2 separate regions of the Homo sapiens genome follow, and region 1 is linked to region 2. Evidence: fine-mapped expression QTL. A gene starts in region 2. The other region holds a variant in brackets. All regions are shown on one strand. Distances are between the middles of the regions.

What was found. PIP is the estimated chance that this variant, and not a neighbour inherited with it, causes the effect. A credible set is the group of variants that fine-mapping cannot tell apart.
Region 1: its variant is the best candidate, but not a certain one, in a credible set for the expression of FNIP1 in whole blood (TOPMed, PIP 0.65).

The regions. Positions count from the first base shown.
Region 1 is chr5:131,695,676-131,698,700 of GRCh38, reverse strand. All of the region lies in intron 11 of FNIP1 (folliculin interacting protein 1), which reads left to right. Among named protein-coding and RNA genes, the nearest start is that of RAPGEF6, 62 kb to the right of the region's middle. The variant T/C (reference allele first, on the strand shown) is at 1,826.
Region 2 is chr5:131,795,982-131,798,481 of GRCh38, reverse strand. FNIP1 (folliculin interacting protein 1) reads left to right here and starts at 1,465. Exons shown (of 18, transcript NM_133372.3): 1 at 1,465-1,652. The coding sequence starts at 1,561. RefSeq lists silencers at 1,262-1,521, 1,572-1,851.

The DNA.
Region 1 (3,025 bases), 100 kb after region 2:
GGCCATTTGACAAGCAAATATGACCAGGAAAGACCCTTGTTCTAGCAAAAGTATGCTTTGTTCTCTCTTGGGATCCTAGATGTAGGGACTGTTAAGTGTTATTTAACCAGTGGTAGTAATCAGATATTCTTGAATACATGAGATACAAGGATATATGGATATAAGGAACATGCACTTGATATTCTAAATGGCTTTGTTGCTTGATCCTTCCTCTAGATATGGCACAGTGAATAGTCCTTCCGCTAGGGTTTTCTGGCTCAACAAAGCTTGTACCTGAAGCCCCAACAACTGCTGTAGCTGTCTTCTAACTATGTGACATACATACTACAAATGATGTTATGTTGGGAATTAGTATACTAAGTGACTGATATGTCTCCCTCGACAAGAGGTTCGGTTTAGGTCTACTTCATTTTCTCAATCTTTCCTCCTTTAGACTAGAGAGATAGAATAGCATAGGGAGTGAAAACTAAGACTCTAGAATCTGTCAGACAGACGTGGATTTTAACCCTGGCTCTGTCATTTACTACCTCTGGTGATCTTGGGCAAGTGCATTAGCGTTTTTGACCCCTAGTTTTCTAGTATAAAATAGGTAAATTCAATTTAGTAATAATCTAATAGATTGTTATAAGGATCAAATGAAATTGTGTGTGTAAGGTACTTAGCAGAATGCCTGACATTAGTGGCACCATTCTTTTCTTTTCTTTTTCTTTCTTTTTTTTTTTTTTTTTTTTTGAGGTGGAGTCTTGCTCTGTCACCCAGGCTGGAGTGCAGTGGCGTGATCTTGCCTCACTGCAACCTCTGCCTCCTGGGTTCAAGCAATTCTCCTGCCTCAGCCTCCTCAGTAGCTGGGATTACAGACGCGTGCCACCATGCTTGGCTAATTTTTTTTTTATTTTTAGTAGAGACGGGGTTTCACCATGTTGGCCAGGCTGTTCTCAAACTCCTGACCTCAAATGATCCGCCCACCTTGGCCTCCCAAAGTGCTGGGATTACAGGCATGAGCCACTGAGCCTGGCCTATGGTAAACATAACCTACAGCAGTGCTTCCCCAACTTAAGTCACTTACATCATATCTTAACAATTTTGCCAAATTTATATATCATGTATACTTTTTAAATTTAGTGTTTCTCTTTAAATTTGACCATCTTTTATACCTAAATAAATCTATTTCAACATGAAACTTCATTACCCTAGATAGGGAAACAATATGCTTTACCATAATAAAACTAGCTATAAAAATAAATTTATAGTAACTAAAATTAAAAATATGTATCTGGGCCAGGCGTGTTGGCATGTGCCTGTAATCCCAGTACTTTGGGAGGCCAAGGTGGTTAGATTGCTTGAGCTCAGGAGTTCGAGACTAGCCTGGGCAACATAGTGAGACCCCGTCACAAAAATAATAATAAATGTGTATTTGTATACCACATTGTGTACACTACGTACCACTGTGTAAATTTTATTATTACCAGTAGTCTATGTACCTTACTTTTAGAAAAACTACATTTTTTTTATTGACAACTGTGTGGTCTCTTACTGGGGCAGGGATCTTCTAGATTGTTGTTTGTTTAAATGGGCCATCACATCTTGGAGTGAAAGGCTGTTTTAGTTTGTGTAACTGCAGGATTGCTATGATGAAATTGTAGGCATGCCATACATATATATAAAATTTTAAAACTTTTAAAATATATAAAACATTTTTAAAACTGAGCTAAAGAGTGGTAGATTTAAATTGAAGAAGTTTATGACTATTGTATAATAATCATTTACTTGACTCAATTATTGAGAAAGAGAATAATGTCTACTCATTCATTTGGTTTATGCATCA[T/C]AATGTTTAGGATAAAAGATATGAAAAGCTAGTTAAATATATCTTACTGTTCTGTACAGTACACTCAGTGGTTAGGGGAAATGTAGAGAAAAACAGAGAGAATTTAATTTCACCTTATATTATTTTTTGGTATTAGAAATAATTTGTACAGGCAAAAACTGTATTTGAGATGATATTTCTGCCATATATTAATTTTATTTTAACATTAATTTTAGGCATTTATTATATGGAGCATGCTAACAAATAATTTTAATTTAATATTTTTATTGTAAAAATATCTATAACGTTAGATTTAGCTTTATAAATCATTTTTTAGGTGTACAGTTCAGTAGTGTTAAGCATATTTACATTGTTTTGAAATCAATCTCTAAAGCTTTTTCATTTTGGGACACTGAAACTCTAGTGATACGGTAATCAGTGTGGGTTTTTTTTAGTTTACTGGCATCTTCACTCTTTATATCTGAATTATATGCAAAGTTATTCATAATTTCATTTCTTCATACTTAAACCATAAAGGTTGAGATTATCACATTTTGGGTGCCATTCATGATTAAATAAAAGCATTATATGCATGTTTTTTATAGATGAAGTGTAGGAGAAATCAAATACATTTGCAGAGGGAATTTAGAGCAACTTTTATGAGCTTCCTGATGTACAGTCTACTTTGGCTTCATAACTTCTCAATTTATATAGCCCTGTTTGTATGTTTCTAGAAGTTCTGTGAAAACACAAAATTTGATGATTTTATGAATGTAAGATGGAAATAATTTTAACATCAGGATTATTTGCTTGAGATGACAATTTCTTTGAGTTGTATTGTTTTAATATAAATGTTTAGGTATCTTCTTTATGATTTAGGAGGTAAATTATACAAAGTTGCTTAAACCAAGTGTTAATGGTTTAGGCCTGCCTAGGATACATATCCTAACCATTGATTTGATATTTCAGTAAGTGTTCTACAGTTAAGGAAAAAGAAGCCCATATTAAGCTCAAGATAAGTGGTTTTCTGTTTTCTCAATGTTGAACACAGTTTTTGAAAGCAGGTAAATTGTAGGTGATGGAATTCCAGCCAGCCAGCAGACATTTTATGTGACTACTGTGTTTTTTTAATAAACATTTGAACCTTTAGGCCTGTAGGCCAGGCAAGCTTTCTTTAGTTTGGCATAGGCTGTATCTCTCTCAGTCAGTTGTATTAACCCA
Region 2 (2,500 bases):
GCTAATTTTTTGGAGACGGGGTTTCACCATGCTGGTCAGGCTGGTCTTGAACTCGTGACCTCAGGTGATCCACTCGCCTCGGCCTCCCAAAGTGCTGGGATAACAGGCGTGAGCCACAGCGCCCGGCCACACCTGGCTAATTAAAATTTTTTTTTTTTTTTTTTTTTTGTAGAGACAGGGTCTTACTGTTGCCCAAGCTGGTTTCGAACTACAGAGCTAAAGCGATCTGCCTGCCTCGGCCTTGCAGTGTTGCGATTACAGACGTGAGCTACCACGCCTGCCCAAAGTATTTTTATCCAGCCTTCCAACCATATACAAGTTATTTCCTAAATTTCTCTGAGGATTACATCCCATTGTACGAGCTTCCTCATCCTGGAGGGGGAGTGAGTGAATGGATGGGGTTGCTGAAAATTTATAAGATTAGTTTGATACAAACTCTGATATATTTTGGTTCCATGGGTTAAATAAGACTGTGAGGTCACATGTGAGCAATGTTTTTCTTTTTTTAGAAAGCGTTTCTTCCCTGTAACTTGACTAAAATTCCACAGTTCCTCCCGTCTTCATACCTAAACATTAAGATAGATTTATTAAAAATCTAAATAATTAGCGTAAAGGGTTAGATATCTGTACATATATGTCTTTAGGCTTCCTGACTTCGTTGGTTTCACCTGATTTTGTTGGTTAACAAGGAAACAGCCTAACTCCTGAGCCTCCAATCGCTAGCTCTTCCAAGAGACTAATTCCCGGTGTCAGGGTTCTAGGCGCTAGTACAAACTGCCCGCAGTGCCTGCTCGAGGTCGTCTTTGCGGGGAGCCATGGCTGTGGCAGGGGTCCCGGCAGTTTCCTTCACCAGTCCCTGTGAGCCAGCCCCCGCGCTGTCCAGATCCCAGACCTCTCGCGGGCCGGCGCAGCCTTCTAAGGGCGGTCCTGGGGTCCTGGGCTCAAAGTCCAGCCTTGGCCGCGGCCCCACGGGTACGCTTGTGGGCCTTCCGTGCTCCAGGAGCCGCCAGACTCTGCCCGGCGCGGAATGGAGGTGTGAAGCCGCAGAAGCTAGGGAGGGGCTGACAAGGAAGAGTCGGTTGCCCGTGGTTCCCTACGCAACTCTGTGGGTGCGGGGAGTCGAAGCCTTCTGCACTCCAAGGCTCCTGGCATCGTCCCCGCGCCACCCCGGCGTACCCTCTGATGGTCGCTGACAGCTTCACAGGGGAAGATCGAGACTGACCCTTCTCCCGCTACACATCCCTAGCCACCTTCCAGTCCTGTCCTCTCGGCTCACGCCCCGCCCCTGCCACGTGACGGGACCCGCCAGTGAGCCTATGGGAGGCAGCTCCGCCCCACGCCCCCACCTTGCCCCTTGCTCCGCGCGCCGCCACGTGATGCGGCCCCCCTCCAGCCAATGAGTGCCGGCCTTGCCTCGCGCCCCGCCCCGCGCGCCGTGGCCGTTTGAAGTGACTAATTTCTGTCATATGACTGAGGCGCCCATGGGGGTGGCGGGGCGGCTGTAGGAGCAGGGGCCTAGCAAGCGCCCAGCGGAGCGACCCCTGCCTGGCCGTGGCTAGCATGGCCCCTACGCTGTTCCAGAAGCTCTTCAGCAAGAGGACCGGGCTGGGCGCGCCCGGCCGCGACGCCCGGGACCCAGATTGCGGGTTCAGGTAGGGCGCTGTGGGGCGGGGGTCGCGGAGCCGATGGCCTTGTGGGCTCCGGGCTCCAGGGGTGTTGGGGCCTTCGGTGTTCCGACCCGAGCGGAAGCGCCGCGCCGAGAGCAGCATCTGGTCCTCGGTGGGGTGGAGCCGGCTGCGGGCTAGCGCCGAAGGGTTGGAGCGAGGTCCTACCTTTTATTTTACCCCACCCGCCTCGCCGTTGCCCCTTCCCCCTCCTCCCGTCGGTTTGTTTACGACCTGCCCCCAGCCACGCGCGACTCTGCTCCTCCGGACCTAGCACCGCGGCCTGAGACTTTGGGTCCACACGCCTTCCTGGCACCGAGTAGAGTTGGGCGCGGGCTGGATTGGACCTCAGCCGCCGTACTCCGGGCCGCGAAGTTCTCCCCTCCTCCCCGTGACCAGTTGTCCTCCGGGCGCTGCGTTCCAGCTCCGTTGGCGTTGTGGAGAGAGCGGCACGTTTGGCCAAGCTTCTGAGTTGAGAGAAGGCTGGAGGAGCGAGTAGGCAACGTGCCGTTCTTTCAGGTTTCTTGGACGCTAAAATTGGAGGTGTGCAGTAACCGGACCGAGCGACCTTAATGTTATCGAAGGAGAAATGTGAAACTTGAGTTTAGGGTTACTGCCGAAGGAAGACCAAATTGAATGAAATCTGGCCTTGGAATTGGCTGTAGATTCTTCCTCCTCGAATTGTTACTGAAAAGGAGTCTTAAAAATTGAAAATGTTAGTAGAGCATTTTGTAGTGTTACAGGCTTTGTTAATTTTTCATTGTAGTACCTGTTGCTGGCAGAGTAACTTTTCAGAATTGTAAGATTTGATATAAACCTGAATTCAAGGTAAAATT